2 separate regions of the Homo sapiens genome follow, and region 1 is linked to region 2. The links come from fine-mapping of genetic effects on gene expression. Tissue or cell type: whole blood. Region 2 holds a variant in brackets; the other region holds the start of a gene. All regions are shown on one strand. Distances are between the middles of the regions. Region 1 holds the start of AKTIP (AKT interacting protein). Region 2 overlaps RBL2 (RB transcriptional corepressor like 2).

Region 1 (8,103 bases), 27 kb before region 2:
TACCTATTGCAAGAAAGAAAAGGTGTCTGTGCCTGGAATAGTACCCTTCCCTGAAAGAGTATTGCTTTCTCTCTCTTTGGTTTTCTGAGTGTGCCACTCTAGATAAAACTAACTCAAGCCTTTATCATCATTCCAAATGCTTTGAGACCACAGAGTGAAGTGGTTTCCCAAAGATAAACTGAATCAAAGAGAACACTGCTCTTATGGCTGTGGGTACAGTCATCAGCGTGCTGAGGGAGTGGGGATTATTTGCGGTGTCAGACCACGTTCAAAATGCTGTTTGATTATAAAAGGAAATCAGTTCTCTTCAGCCCTGAATGAGCAGCCGTATCATATATTGGTTGCTTTTCCTTAAGACATAAATATCCGCAGTGGTCCATCAGCTACCCTGATTTCATTTTGAAATGTTGTAGTCTGTCTGTAAAATTCATTCCTCCACCCGCCCACCCACTTGCTCAGGGATAGGAGTTATGGGTAATGGGATAGGGAGGAAAACATGATGCAACCAAAACCTGGAAGCACATGTGTGATGTTATAAGCAAGAACCGTATCGCTCGATGAGGCTATGGAAAGGAAGAAAGCCACATCATCCGTCTATAGCAGCATTTCTAAACCTTCAATAATTCTTAAAAGTTTGTGATTTCTGTCTTGTCTGAGGATCATTGTTAACTATAGGACAACTATCTGATCTCCCTTAAATCCATTTACTTAAAAAAAACAACAACATTAAATGCCTACTTTGGTCTCATCCTAAACATTATTACCCATAAAATAATGGCTTTAATGTGCTAAGTATATTTTTTCAAAGACATTAATATGTATAGCTAGATCATCCTCCCATATTTTGAACAGTATATGTAATCAGTGACATGTATACAGGAATCTACTTTTCAGAAAAGGACTTGGGGGCAAATGGATTGCGCTAAAAACATCGGCTTATATGTGTGCCTGTGTATGAAACATATGTATTTTAACAACCTTCAACATTTTATCCTTTCCTTCTTTCTGTGAAGGCCTTTAATAGTTAAGTCAGTGATCTAAACAGCTTTGTACAGTTACTTTTCCGGAGTCCAAAAGATGTATGATTCAGGGAATATTTTGCTGATTAGAACATGAGCAGAAGTCCTGAATACTCAGAGATCACATATCTATTAAGTCTGGATGCAAAAAGAACCTTTTGGTGCAAATATATCAAATATGCTTCAAAAATTGAGAATAGGAAATGTAATATGAAGCGATTTAAAATGTTTTATAGGTAAGGTTTTGGGTCCATTGAGATTTTTCTCAGCACTTTATGTTTTAGTCTTAAAGAAATGGTACCTTGAGGCCACCTCCTCATTTCCCTTTGAATAAATCATCCTGATTTTCATAATGAGTTGCTTTCTTGGTGCAGACCTGTGGGCGTGCAGGTAGGTGTTTCAAATGTACTTTTGTTTCTTCTGTCCTTCATTTGGCAAATATTTATTGCATGCCTACAACATCTAGCTCTTGGGTGCCGGGGAGACAATAGAAAGCAAAAAAATGGTTCCTCCTCAGGAGCTTACAGTGTGGGAGACAGACACTAATAATCTCCCAAATCAACAGCAAATTGCCCCCAAGGAAGTAGTGTTAGAGCTGAGATCTGTGTAGGGGATTGAAGAGAATGAACTGGGCAAAGGGAACGTTCACTGCGAAGGCCCCTTTTGTGGCAGGGCAGGTAGGGGAGCAACTCCCTTCCAAGGAACTGGAAGAATGTCAGAGTGGCTGGAGTCTGCAGCCACCTGGGGCTGGGACACAGCCATGGTGAGGAGTTTGGTCTTTGCCCAATGGGGAACCACTGAAGGGCTTAAATTCCTCAAGAAAATGGAGGTTCTGTCAGCAATGAAAAAGGGAGAAGTGGGTATTAGGTATACAGGCAATAGTGCTTACAGAAACACCCCAAACATACCTACCCAAAACACAACCCAGATTTTCCCATTTCCCACTGTCCCAAACCTGCTTGTGGTTCACTGTTTGTCACCTCAGTGAATGGCCTCACCATCCATCCTGTAGCTCATGCTAAAAATCTAGGTGTCAGCCATATCTGCCTCTTCATCCCCCATACCTAGTCCATGGCCAAGCTCTGTCCACCCCACCTGTATGAATCCATCAGTGTTGCTATAAAGGAATACCTGAGGCTGGGTCATTTATTTTTAAAAAGAGGTTTATTCAGCTCATTGTCCACTTCCTTGGGGCAATTAGCCATTGATTTGGGAGATGACTTGATTAGCATCTATCTCCCGTAGCTCCATGAGGAGGAACAATGTCTGTTTTGTTCTCCAACGCCTCCCCAGCATTTAAAGCCTAGATGTCATTAAGCATGCAATAAATATATGTCAAATGAAAGACAGAGGCAACTAAGTATAAGAAGCATGGCACCAGCATCTTCTGGTGAGGACCTCAGGAAGCTTCCATTCATGGCAGAGGGAGAGGCCAGCAGGAATCATTTGGCAAGAGAGAGAGCAGTGGTCAGGGGAGGAGAAGGTGACAGGCTCTTTTTGACAATCAATTCTCTCGGGAACTAATAGAACTCACTCACTACTGCCAAGAACTCACTACTGCCAGGACAGCACCAAGCCTTTCATGAGGGATCAGCCTCCATGACCCAAATACTCCCACCAGGCCCCACTTTCAACATTGGGGGTCACATTTCAATATGAGGTTTGGAAGGGTCAAACCATATCCAAACTATATCATCCCGTCTTAAACATCTCTGGAACTCATTCAATTCTCCATCTCTACCTTCAAATTCATGCGATTCTCTGTTGCCTGAACTACTGCCATGGTTCCTCAACTGCCCCGTGAGCCTTGTGCCCCTACAATCTGTTTTCCGCACAAAGTGATGTTTTCAAAATACAAATCTGATCATGGCTCTCCTCTGCCTAAAGTCCAGGCAGAGATCTAGGGAAAATCTCAGCCCAAGTCGATCATGGCGGACTCCTTCCACTTGCCGTTGACTGGGTTTCGTTGTGGCCAGAGACTTACTTCTGGCCATTGAAACCTGCAGGCATTTCTTCTGCGGAGCTTCTGGGAAAGGTAGTCATGTATTTCAAAAGGGACCACTGGAAGAAAGGGATACTTTTAATTTTGTGAGATCCTGGGTGTGCCGCGGCCATCTTGCTACCAGCCTGAAAGTGCAATTCCAGGGACTGCAAGGAAAGCAGAGCCTGAAGACCAGGGCACCACCTCTGGAGACAATCCTCCCATGGGAGAGAAATCCCCTTGCTAAGTAAGCCGGTTTGAGTTGGCTTTCCTGCCATGTGCAGTCTGATGCTGGTGTGCGTCTGAGTCATCCGGTGCCAAGTACGCAGTTGATGACATGCATTGGAAGCTCAGTGGATAGATGTGAGCTGGAGAAATACCTATGTGGGTCCTCGGTGAAAACTGAAGGTTGGGGAAAGGAGGAAAGCAGAAAAAAAGCTTTGCAGAGGATAATGAGCTTCAAAGAAGATTGGGAGGAAATGGGCCACAGAGGTGCCAAAGGAGACCACCTGTGGCCTGAAAAAAGGATTTCCTGCTTGCCTGCCTTTCTGTATTAAGACTCGTATTAAAAGGCATGATAACATTCCTAAATGTGTCCTAAGGGGACAAAAGGAAGTGGCTCAGAAGTGTTTTCAGCTAGGGGAGGAAGCTGGGTTTCAGAACCAACCCTTGGGATTAACATCAGGAGAATTTGGCTTCCTGCCCTTTAATAAGTCACTTACCAGAATCTCAGAGGCAACCAAAAATGGACCAAACAACCCGGCCAGAGAATGCGGCTTCTGAGTGTAAGACACTGAGGCGGTGTCACAGACAGGTCAGTGCCTCTGGTGTCTAGAAAAGGGGCAGGGGCTTGCGGGGAGAGGGCTGTCGCGCAAGTGTGGAAGTGGAGTGCCGAGATTGGACGGACTAACCACGGGGAGGCACCGTTGGTAAGAACAGGCCTGGAAAGCAGCTGGCAGCAGTCACAGAATTAGGCCAGAGAGAGACCTCCATGGGAAAGCAGACGGGAGGTCCAAATGAGAGCGTGTGAATTAAAAAAAAAAAAAAAAAAAAAGACCAGGAACTATGTTGCTATGGGAGAGGTTCTCCAACTTCAGTGTGCGCCAGAATCAGCAGCGAACTGTGACAGATGTGGATTCCTGGTCCTCAGCCTCCCCCCTCCCCCCAGCCCCCGGCCCCCACTCGGATGCTGCAGGTCGGGGCCGACACACACAGATTTACAAAGCTCCTCTGGCTGCTCTAGTGCCCAGGGCCCACTTGGAGCTGAGCTCCCTTCAGCTCCAGCCTTCAGCTCCTGCACTGATGGAGAGAACGGGCGTTTCTTGATGCCACGCCAAGTGTCCTTCTGACCCCTGGTACCCTGTGGGCCCGACGTGGCGGCCTCGGGCCTCGCAGCGCCGCCCAACGCAGTAGGACCTAGCGATGGGAGCCACTGGGCAGTCGCGCGGCCCGGCCCTCCCCAAAAGCTTGGCTTGCAGACGTTAGCGTATGCCCCAGCCCCTGCGCATGGCGGTTGCGCTGTGGGCTGTGCGAATAAACCTCCGGGAAGGTCTCCGTGGTGACTGGCAGACGCCCTGGCCAATTGTGACCCGGCGCTTGTTTGTCTCTGCCCCATCCCTCCCCGGGGGGCCGATACTTCCATGACTGACAGGCCGTCCCAGGCGCTGTTACGTAAGGGGAGGGTCAAGTGCAGTCCCACCCAAACCGGGGTGATTTGATTTGCAGGACCGAGTGTGTTCTTCCCAACGCCCCCGGAAGAACGTCTTTGACGGGCAGGTGTGAGAGCCAGTTGGCGCCGGGAGGCCAGGCGGAAGCCTCGGGCCCCAGGATCGTGCAGCAGGGGGCGGAGCCCGCTGCCGAGGGCAGGGCAGGGCAGGGCAGGGCGGGGTGGGGCGGGGCGGGGATCAAGCAGGGGCAGGGCTGGCGCTGCGGCGGGAGATGCTGTCGGGCCGCGGCGGCGCTTGGCAGCCAGGAGCTCTGCATTGAAGGCACTGGGGTGAGGCTTACTGCCCGGCAGGCTGGTGGGTACGCGAGGGCTGAGGTGTCTGTAAATCTGGCCGCCAGCCTCCACGGGCCCGGCATTTGTCCATCTTTCTAGGCGCTCGCGACTCGGCGACGGCGGCCGCAGTGGGACACGGAGGCGGGGCCGGGCACCTGTGCGCGTTTGCAGGCACCTGCTGCGCTGGCCGCCTCGCAGCCCGGGACTGCTGCTGGGGACTGCGGCTGGAGCTGGGCTGGCCCGGCCCGAGGGAGAGGGGGGCCCAGCTGGCTCGCCCCGGCCCGTGCCCGCCCTCCCCGGCCGGGTCCCGACCCCGAGCTCTGGTTAAGGGGGCGTCGCCGGGCCCCAGAGCCCCCCCACTGGAGGGGCCCGCGGCTCCCGGGCCAGCATCGAGCTAGCTGCGAGGCCAGGACAGGGCCCCCGCCTTGCATCACCTCGAGACAGGTTTGTCCAGATTCCCTGAGTGCTCAGAGACGGGTTTCCGCCCGCGGTGAGGGTGCCGGTCCGAGGCCGCCGCGGGTCCCGGCTGTCCCCAGCGAGCCTGGCCCGGGCCGTTTTCATCTTTTTTTTTCTGGCCCCTGCTCTGTCTCCTCTTAACGTGTAATTTCTTAAGTCCGATTCGGGGTGATGTGAGTGCGCTGTGGCATGTAGAGTAACAGCAGCACTCATGTTTTAGCCTAGTTTTAGCTCTGCCACGCACTGTCATTCGCGCAGGCTGAAGACCCAGACTTCTCAGCTGGGTGATGTAAAGGAATGCAGCCGTGGCCAAACAGGCAGAAATTCTAAAATTGTTTCCAAGTGACAAGGATGTAACATGTCTTGCTTCCATCTATGTCATTCCTCTCAGAACATGTATGCTGTGCTTGTCCTAGACTAGACCCTGAAAAGTGTGCTACAGTTTCTCGTGATTATGTTGCTGCTGGAAACATTGGATTAAAAGATCCATAGCAAAGTTAGGCAGCAGAAGACAATACCTCCTGCTTAATGACAGGCAGAACTGGGGACAAAATTTACTGGATTCTTAAAGAGAATCCTAACGCGTTAGACCTTTAAGAGACTTTACAGGTTTGCACCAGCCCATTAAATGTATGTTGTGGAGCACACCACTGTGTCCCAAGGGATCCGGTCCCGTGTTAGGTGTGTCCTAGAGGACACTGGGGTGCTGCACATTACTGCTAGATCTGAAAATCAGTGTCTTCATTTGAGCCAAAGGGGAACATGCCCCCGCACATTTTTGATATCTCAAGTATATTCAGTGTGTCATACTCACCTTTAAAGGCAGATTTGCGGAGAACTGTTGTTACTTATTGCATGTTATCCATGCTAGTAGAAGAGCCAGGATCTTCATTCCTCTGATTTAATTACTGGGTGGCATTTTCTCTTGGAAAACAAAACAGCAGTAATGGGCACTGGCAAGGTATGGATGACCTGGGTTGGGTACGTCCCTGGATGTCACAAGCTCGTCAGAGAAGACAAATTATTGCTGATTGGGGACATTTAGTACATGGTTTGCTCATGATCTGTTTAAGAAATTAGGAAAACGTTGCTTAGTTTTGACCCTTTTCACCTTCAGCCGTTTGATTGGTGCAAGTAGGAATTCAGAGAAGGAGCTCTGCTTTAAAGGTAACAGAGCCTGGGGGGAAATACCAGGGCAGGGAAGTTGCTGTTCTTACAGCTGGGCTTGGCTGCTTTTCCTTTGCTTCTTTGTATTTTTAGTAAATGACCCACTGACTTTATGACCTTTGAGACATGCTTTCTTATCCACGACTTGAAGCTTCGGCTGGAAGATCTGTACTTGTGAAATGTCTCTCTTGCGTGCCTGTGTTGCATTTGTCTGGATTGCTTGGCAGTTCCTTAAGTACATGATCCTGCAGTTTCTATATGTTTCGAAGTTGTAGAAGGCAGTTTATTGGGGGATGGTACTGACAGGACTCAGGTAACTACTTTTGTCGTCTTAGTGACATACTTGTGCTGTGCCTTCCTGTTTTCTCTTATTTCTTTGGCTAATACTTTGCTGGAGGAATCATTTTGTACTCAGGTGAGTTGAGGCAGCGCTTAAATCAGCCTCCTTGTATCTATTGTTTGTTCCCATAACCCTGGGAACAGTGATACAACTTATGTGTATGTGGGTACAGTGCATTCTGAGTCTGGCTTTCCTGTTAGTTAAATGCCGAGATGTGCTAGTAACAACTGTTGTCCGTATCTTCTGAATTTCTGGCACCAAAGCTCATCTGTGTCACTGAGTAATCTGAATCCTGGCCAAGGGACCTGGTGCACAGATTCTTATAGACATCTAAGTGTGAAAGAAATTAGAACCAGAAAAGGAGGTGGGTATAGAAGGAAACTATTTCTGAAGATGCCTGAAGACCTTTTCCTAGGTTTTTATAACCCCTTGTTATATAACATTATATTGTATATCCAGGGTGTCATAATTAGTTATTCATCATTTCAGAAGTCTTAACTGTTGGCCGGGCGTGGTGGCTCATGCCCGTAATCCCAGCACTTTGGGAGGCTGAGGCAGGTGGATCACTTGAGGTCAGGAGTTCGAGACCAGCCTGGCCAACATGGTGAAACCCTGTCTCTACTAAAGATACAAAACTTAGCTGGGCATGGTGGCAGGCACCTGTAATCCCAGCTACTCAGGAGGCTGAGGCAGGAGAATCGCTTGAACCCAGGAGGTGGAGGTTGCAGTGAGCCGAGATCACACCACTGCACTCCAGCCTGGGCAACAGAGTGAGACTCCATCTTAAAAAAAAAAAAAAGTCTTAATGGTTGGTGTTGGCATGTTTCTATGTCTTCCCGTCTTGTTTTAAGGTAAAGTGAATGCCGAAGACAGAAGATTTGGATGATACACCACTGACTTTCTTTGTTTGGAATACACGTTATGAACCCTTTCTGGAGCATGTCTACAAGCTCTGTACGCAAAGTAGGTATAGTTGATAAATTCAGTAAGAAAACCCATTTGCTTCTGTGTCTGAAAATAGGGTCAGAATGAAGGCTAAAATAATCTGTCACGGTCACCTGTAATCTTGACAAAATTACCTGGTTTTTCTAGTTAAGGGTTTACTCTTGAGAAATAATTATTTTGTTGGTTGAAGTCTGTT
Region 2 (8,532 bases):
TATTTTAAGCAATTTTTATACATTATGTCATTTCATCCTTACAACAACCCCATATGCTAGGAACTAGTTATATTCCCATTTTATATATGAGGAAATGAGGTACAGAGAAAATTTAATGATTTGCAAGGTTACCACCACTGTTAAGTACTGGAAAATTTGAACCCATGTAGCCTGTCTCTTGTACTACTATACTTTGTAGGGACTCCAAATACAATCTTACTCGTTTAATGCTTAACAACAGTAGAATTTATATTGGTTAGGTAAATTACAGACCTCCTCAGTTTTACTTAATAGAATTATTTGTAAAACTAGCTTATTTATGAGACAGAGTCTTGTTCTGTCACCCAAGCTGGAGTGCAGTGGCACAATCTCAGGTCACTGCAACCACCGCCTCCCATGTTCAAACAATTCTCCTGCCTCAGCCCCCAGAGTAGCTGGGATTACAAGTGTGTGCCACCACGCCCAGCTCATTTTTGTATTTTTAGTAGAGACTGGGTTTTACCACGTTGGCCAGGCTGGTCTTGAACTCCTGACCTCAAGTGATCTGCCCTCCTCGGCCTCCCAAAGTGCTGGGATTACAGGTGTGAGCCACCACACCTGGCCAAAACTAGTTTATATACGGACCAGGTGAATGGTCCATATATAAATCATAAATGATTCCTCAACACTCATGAGTGAAAAAAGTATGAAATAATCCCTGTCATACTTACATTTGCCTGTGAGTACTTCATGGCAAATGTCTTAATCTGTTTGATGTAGATGTTGTTGTAGAACTGAATGAGGTCTCCCCTCTCCTCTTCTTCCATGTCACTGTTGGCACCTGTGAGGCGAGTAGGTGTGGGAGGAGCACTGCTGGGCTGTGGAACTGGCAAGGTGCTGCTTGACCTCATAACTGGACTGGAGTCTCTACTGGCTGCAGCCAGGAGAACAAAGGCTGTCAGTACAAAGGCTGCTAATATTGACTGTTTTAATTTTTTAAAAGTAGGAGAAAGGGAACAGCTACCTGCACTACTTGCTAATAACAGTGAATAGGCACTCTGTTCTTCACACCAAAAAGCAAAGCTCAGCTAGGATATTAACTTTCTCCCTATGCCATAACCATAGCAAGGGCTTTCTGAGTAGTGTCCATTAATAAGTTACACCAAATTTTCTAGGACCTAAGCCCTGTACTAAGTGGTACAAAGCAACAGGCAGGGGATGGTATTTCCATAGCATGGTTCCAATTGACATATCAGACCTTTCTGGAACTCAGGCAAGCAGATTCCTCCCTGAAAGCTCTAATTCTCCTGGAGAAAAATGTTACATAATATGTGCCCCAAAGCTATGTAATGGACAGTTTTGCCAGCTAGAATATGGTTTACTGATCTATAAAACACTTTCATAGTTTCTATAGTTATTTCATTTAGTAATGCTTAGTTACTTCTTCAAGGCCTAAAAAGTAAGAAAAGCTCCTAATTTTGTCTTGTAGTTCACAAAGATCCCACTTACTTCTATCTTTGTTTAGTTCTGTTGGAGAATTCTGATGGCTTCTGCTATCACTGCTGCCAGAATTTCTTCTTTTTCTTTTCCCTTTTATCAAAACACTTCTATACACCTTTAGAGAAACAATGAGAAGGGGACATAAACTAGTATTTGTTGAGCACACCCTTGGTGATAGGACCTTCACATATGTTACTTGGTTTTCACAATAACCTGTATAGCAATAGTTGTCCTCAGAACAGGTTGAGAAACATAACTCAAATTATAACAGATCCAGGATTCAATCAGAGCCCATCTAGCATCACATGCCAAGTACTACCTGCAGTACTACACTGCAGTGACAGCACCCAACCATAATGTCAAGTCATTCTAAGTAAGATACACAGATCTGGCCGATTTGCCTCTCAGAGATGAATGGTAATAAAGGCAAAGTGGGTTTTAAATTTCCATGTGACATTCTGTTGGTTAAACCTACAGTATGTTTACTAAACCAGAATGAAAGGTGACATAGAAACCAAGTAACTTCTTAATTCCTATCTTGTGATTTTTCTGAATTAAGAAGGCAATCAAATATTTAACATTGTTGCCTTTTGAGGAAAAGAGACCTTAATCAACATGTGACATCAAGAATAAAGATTAAAGTAGAAACTTCCCTTAAGTAGAGTCCCAGGTGTTTATCTTGGAAAAAAGGCCACAGAGTCAACTATGGTTAATTTTTTGTATTCATCACAGACTTTAAGCTTTATTTTTCAGCCCATAGAGAAAATGTAGTTACCTGGCTCCGGGCCTGCGGCTGAGTCCTATAACAACGCATAATGTTCTGGAAGGACTTATCTTCTTTTGTGACCTGGCAAACAATAAGAGTGCTCTGAGAGACATGGCAACTACCACCATAATAGTGTGAGGAGCTCTGTGAACCTGCTGCCCAGTAAAAGGGGTGAAAATTATATAAAAGCTATTTAAAGTCTCTGGAAATGGTATTAACGGCATATAGCAAATGAAGATACATCGATTCAAGAATATCTATTAAAATTCAATAAAAACAATAGGAGTCTATAGTATGTGAATCAAGACTTAGAGGCCAGGTGCGGTGGTTCACACCTGTAATCCCAGCACTTTGGGAGGCTGAGGAGGGTGGATCACTTGAAGTCACGAGTTCAAGACCAGCCTGGCCATCATGGTGAAACCCAGTATCTACTAAAAATACAAAAATTAGCCGGGCATGGTGGCACATGCCTGTAATCCCAGCTACTGGGGAGGCTGAGGCAGGAGAATCACTTGAACCTGGGAGATGGAGGTTGCAGTGAGCTGAGATTGAGCCACTGTACAGCCTGGGTGACAGAGCAAGACTCTCTCTCAAAAAAAGACTTGGAGTAGAAAAGTACAGTAAATGAAATGAAAAATTCACTAGAAGCTAGGGAAAACAGATTTGAACTAGCAAAAAAAAAAAAAAAAGGATTAGCAAACATGAAGAAAGAGATTGTGTGATCTGAGGAACAGAGAAAGAATGAAGAAAAACAGCCTCAGAGAAATGTGGCACACCATTAAGGAAATCAACATACGTGTAATGGGAGAATCAGGAGAGGAGAGAAAGAAGCAGAAAAAAATGTTCAAAGAAATACTGAAAACTTCCCAAATTTATTAAATTACATATCCAGGACATTCAGTGACTTCCAGGTAGGATAAACTCATCCGTACCCAGATATATCACAGTAAAAATGTTCAAAGCCAAAGAAAGAAAATATTAAAAGCATCAAGAGAAAAACAACTTTTCAGTTACAGGGAAACCCCAATAAAATAAAATTTGACTTCTAATCAGAAACTACAGAGGCCAGGAGGCAGTGGGATAACATTCAAAGTGATGAAAGAAAAAATATTAAACTAAGAATCCAGTATTAAAAAGTTACTCAAGATTTTTATCTCTGAAATGTCAATATTCAAAATTTTTGCAAGTTATCTTTCAGAAATGAAGGTAAAATAAATATACTCTCAGATAAACAAAAACAGAATTTGGTGCTAGCAAACCCCTTACAAGAAATACTACACAAAATTCTAGAAGCCAAAAGCAAATGCCCCTGGACAACACTACACATGAAGAAAGCCAAGAGCACTGGTAAAGATAATTATGTAATCGTAAATACAGTATAACTGCACATTTCTTCTCCTTTCTTAACTGATTAAAAAATCAATTGTATAAATAATATATATATATAATGTACCCATAACATACAAAAATGTAACATATTTGCCTACAACAGTACAAAGGAGGTAGGCAGGAGCAAAGCCATATTGAGCAAAGGAAATTACTCCAGATGGCAACTCACATACACAGGAATGAATAAGAGAAATAGAAATAGGCTGGGTGTAGTGGCTACTCCTGTAATCCCAACATTTTGTGAGGCTGAGGCAAGTGAACTGCTTGAGGCCAGGAGTTCGACACCAGCCTGGGCAACATGGCAAAACCCCGTCTCTACAAAAAAATACAAAAATCAGCCGGGCATGGTGGCACATGCCTGCACCCTGTAGGCCCAGCTACATGGGAGGCTGAGGCAGAAGGATCATTTGAGCCCGGGAGGCAGAGGTTACAGTGAGTTGAGATTGCACCGCTGCTCTCTAGTCTGGGCGACAGAGCAAGACTCAGTCTTAAAAAAGAAAGAAAGAAAGGAAACCAGAAATTATTAATAAGGTTACTAGAGCAAAAGTTTTAAATACATACTTACACTCCTTTCCTTTCTGCTACTTTAGAAGTCATAAAATTGTATCAATAATTATAACAATGTACTGGTGGAGTTGTACATTTATGGATGTAATATGTGTAACGAAACAGTTAACACTCCTATATCTCACTGGAATTAAGTCAGTATAATCTGAAGCTGATTTTTGATAAGAGATATATGGTAAGCCCTAGGGCAACCACTACACACACACACACACACACACACAAAATGAAACCAAAGTACTGACGTTAAAATGCTACTTTAGAAAATATTGACCTAATGCAAAAGCAAAGCTGCAAAGGCAAAGGGAAAGACATGAAAACAAAAAGTAAAATGGCAGATGTAAATCCAATTATATACATAGTCAAAAGGCAAAAGAAATCCAAATGTATTTTATCTACAGGAGACATTTTAGATTTAAAAAATACAAATACATTCGAAAATGAAAGGATGGAAAGAGGTAT[A/G]CAGACAGCAACCATAAGAAAGCTGGGTGACTATATATCTCACACTATAAATCAGACTTCAGGACAAAAAAAGTTATTAAAAAGGGACATTCCATAATGATAAAAGGATCAAGCCATCAGGAATCTATAACAGTTATACACATACCTAATAACTGAGCACAAAAAATACCTGAAGCGAAAAGTGACAGAAGTGAAGGGAAAAGTAGACAATTCAGCAATAATATTTATAGATTTCAGTACCTCACTTTCAAGAATGGAGAGATGATCTAGGCAGATCAACAAGGAAACAAAACACTTTACTAACAATATAAAACAATTAGACCTAACAGACATCTACAGAACACTCTCCCCAACCTCCACAGAATACACACTGTTCTCAAATGTACTTTGAAATTCATTAGGATAGAGCATATATGCTAGGCTATAAAACAATTCTTAATATATTTAAAAGAACTGGAATAAAATGAAGTGTGTTTTCAATCACAATGAAAGTAGAAATCAGTAACAAATTTGGGAAACTTACAAATACGAAGTTAACAACATATTGCTACATAACCAGTGAGTCAAACAGAAGCCAAAAAAAGAAATCAGAAAATACTTTTGAAATGAAGACACACCATACCAACACTCATGCAGCTAAAGCAGTGCACGGAGGAAAATTTAGAGTTGTTAATGCTTACACTGAAAATGAAGAAGGGCCAAGGGCGGTGGCTCACACCTGTAATCCCAGCACTTTGGGAGGCTGAGGAGGGAGGATTGCTTGAGCTCAGGAGTTCGAGACCAGCCTGGGTAACACAGCAAAATCTCGTATCTACAAAAAATTAGCAGGGCATGGTGGTGCACGGCTGTGGTCCCAGCTACTCAGGAAGCTTAGGGAAGAGGATCACTTAAGCCCTGGAGGAAGGCTGCCGTGAGCACTACACTCCAGCCTAGGCGACAGAGCAAGATGCTGTCTCAAAAAAAAAAAAAAAAAAAAAAAAAAAAGATATTGAAATATTAGAAAGGTATCTTTTAAAAGATACTGATATCTACGTAAAGGATTTGGGGAAAAAAGATATTAAGAGAAATAGTAAATTAATTACCTAAACATCCATCTTAAACCATCTTAAAACAACAGAAAAGGGCAAAAAGTAAGCCTCAAGTAAGCAGAAAGAAGGAAATAAGATTATATACTAATGAATAAAGAACACAAAAATAGATAAATGAAACCAAAAAGCTGGTTTTTAAAAGAAAAAGATCAAGAAAATTGACAAACCTTTAGCTAGACCAAGAACAAAAGGGAGGAGTCTCAAACTACTACAAAAAGCAGGGCACAGGGGCTCATGCCTGCAATCCCAGCACTTTGGGAGGCCAAGGTGGATGGATCGCTTGAGGCCAAGAGTTTGAGACCAGCCTGGGCAACATGGGGAAATTCCATCTCTACTAAAAATACAAAAACTAGCTGGGCGAGGTGGCACAGGCCTGTAGTCCCAACTACTCAGGAGGCTGAGGCACAAGAATCACTGGAAACCAGGAGGCTAAGGTTTCAGTAAGCCAAGATCATGCCCCTGTATTCCAGCCTGGACAACAGAGTGAGACTGTCTCAAAAAACAAAACAAAACGAAAACTACAATCATAAAAGGAAAAGGACATTACTACTGACCTTAAAGAATAAAAAAGAACAGAAGGAAATATTATAATTATTTGCCAACAATTTAGCCCAGAGGAAACAGACAAATTCTTAGAAAGACATACACTACCACAACTGATTCTAGAAGAAACAGATGATCTGAATAGACCTATAACAAATAAGAGACGGAATTATTCACCAATAAACTTCCCACAAGGAAAATCTCTGGTCTCAACAGCTTCGCTGCTGAATTCTACCAAACTTTAAAACATTAATACCAAGAAGCTCATATCCATGGGTCTTTCAGGCAGCTGTAAATTAAAAAAAAAGGCAAAGGAAAAAATATAATACCTAAATATAGAAGAGAACACTTCCTACTCAATTCTATGAGACCATTATTACCCTGATAATAAAACCAGACAAAGCCACAACAAGAAAACTACAGACCAATGCCTCTTATGCATAAGGATAAAATTCCTTAGCAATCACTGCTGCATGTGGAAACTTGAAAAAATAAATATTTTTTTTAACTGAAAACAAATTCCTCAACAAACTGTTGGCAAACCAAACCTAGCAACATATAAAAAGAATTATAGGCTGGGCACCGTGGCTCACGCCTATAATCCCAGCACTTTGGGAGGCCGAGGCAGGTGGATCACCTGAGGTTGGGAGTTTGAGACCAGCCTGACCAATATGGAGAAACCCCGTCCCTACTGAAAATACAAAATTAGCCAGGGGTGGTGGCACATGCCTGTAATCCCAGCTACTTGGGAGGCTGAGGCAGGAGAATTGCTTGAACCTGGGAGGCGGAGGTTGCGGTGAGCCAAGATCTCGCCACTGCACTCCAGCCTGGGCAACAAGAGCGAAATTCCATCTCAAAATAAATAAATAAATAAATAAATAAATAAAAGAATTACAGCAGCCGGGTGCAGTGGCTCACGCCTATAATCCCAACACATTGGGAGGCTGAGGCATGAGGACTGCTTGAGCTTAGGAGTTCGAGACCAGCCTGTGCAACAAGGTAGACCCTGTCTACAAAAAATTTAAAAAATTAGCCAGGCATGGCAGCATGTACCTGTAGTCCCAGCTACTCAGGAGATGAAGGTGGGAGGACTGCTTGTAGTGAGCTATGATCTCACCACTGCACTCTAGCCTGGGTAACAGAGCGAGACACTGTCTCAAAAAAAGAAAAAAATAAGACTTACACACCATGACTGAGAGGGATTTACACCAGAAATGCAAGGCTGGTTTAACATAGGAAGATTAATCAGTGTAATATACTATATTAATAGAATAAAAAAAATAAGCACACGATCATCTCAATGGACACACAAGCATTTGACAAAATCTAATGCCCTTTCATGATAAAAAAAACACTCAATGAACTAAGAAAAGAAGGGAACTTCCTCAACCTGATAAAGGGCATCTATGAAAAAAACCATAACTACTATCATACTTTAATAGTGAAAAACTAGATGCTTTCCACCTAAGATCAAGACAAGGATTTCTGCTTTCGACAGTTCTGTTCAACTATACTGGAAGTTCTAGCAAGATAATTAGGAAAGAAAAAGAAATAAAAGGCATCCAGTTTGGACAAGAAGTAAAATTATAAGCAGATTACATGATTTCCTACATAGTAATCCTAAGGAATCTACTAGAAAACTATTAGAACTAATAACTTCTGCAAAGTTGCTGGATACTAGATCAATATACAAAAGTGTTTTTCTATACACTTGCAATGAACACGTTAACAATGAAACAACTACACTTGGAATAGCATCAACAAGAATAGGAATAAATTTAACAAAAGAATTGCAAACATACTCTGAAAAGTACAAAGCATTGTTGAAAAAAAAACAGAAGATCTAAATAAATGGAAAAACATCCTATGTTCATGGATCAGAAGATATAAAATTGTTAAGATGGCAATACTCCCCAAATGGATCTACAGATTCAGTGCAACCCTATCAGAATCCTAGCTTATTCCTTTGTGAAACTGATAATTTGATTCTAAAATTCATTTTTCAAGGGACTTCGAAAATAATCTTGAAAAGAAAAAAAAAGTAGGAGCACTCATATTTCCCAATTTCAAAACTTATAAGAAAGCAACTCTCTAATCTAGAGAATATGGTATTGCATAAGGATAGGCATATAGTCCAGTGGAATAGAATTTAGAGTTCAGAAATAAACCCAAATGTTGTCAACGGTCAATTGATTTTAAAGGAGGGTACCAAGGCCATTCAGTGAGGAAAAAAATCTTCTT

Evidence for each region.
Region 1: AKTIP starts here. The variant in region 2 is fine-mapped to the expression of AKTIP in whole blood (INTERVAL, PIP 0.93).

What each region holds. Positions count from the first base shown.
Region 1 is chr16:53,500,040-53,508,142 of GRCh38, reverse strand. It overlaps AKTIP (AKT interacting protein), which reads left to right and starts at 4,934. Exons shown (of 10, transcript NM_022476.4): 1 at 4,934-4,996; 2 at 7,814-7,925. The coding sequence starts at 7,884. LOC124903690 (a long non-coding RNA gene) reads right to left here and starts at 3,763. Exons shown (of 2, transcript XR_007065069.1): 1 at 3,723-3,763; 2 at 2,165-3,402. RefSeq lists silencers at 3,767-3,856, 4,577-4,816, 4,837-4,906, 5,167-5,466 and enhancers at 4,177-4,276, 4,737-5,236, 5,237-5,738.
Region 2 is chr16:53,472,948-53,481,479 of GRCh38, reverse strand. RBL2 (RB transcriptional corepressor like 2) reads right to left here. Exons shown (of 22, transcript NM_005611.4): 18 at 2,255-2,326; 19 at 1,489-1,594; 20 at 711-913. Among named protein-coding and RNA genes, the nearest start is that of AKTIP, 26 kb to the left of the region's middle. The variant A/G (reference allele first, on the strand shown) is at 4,661.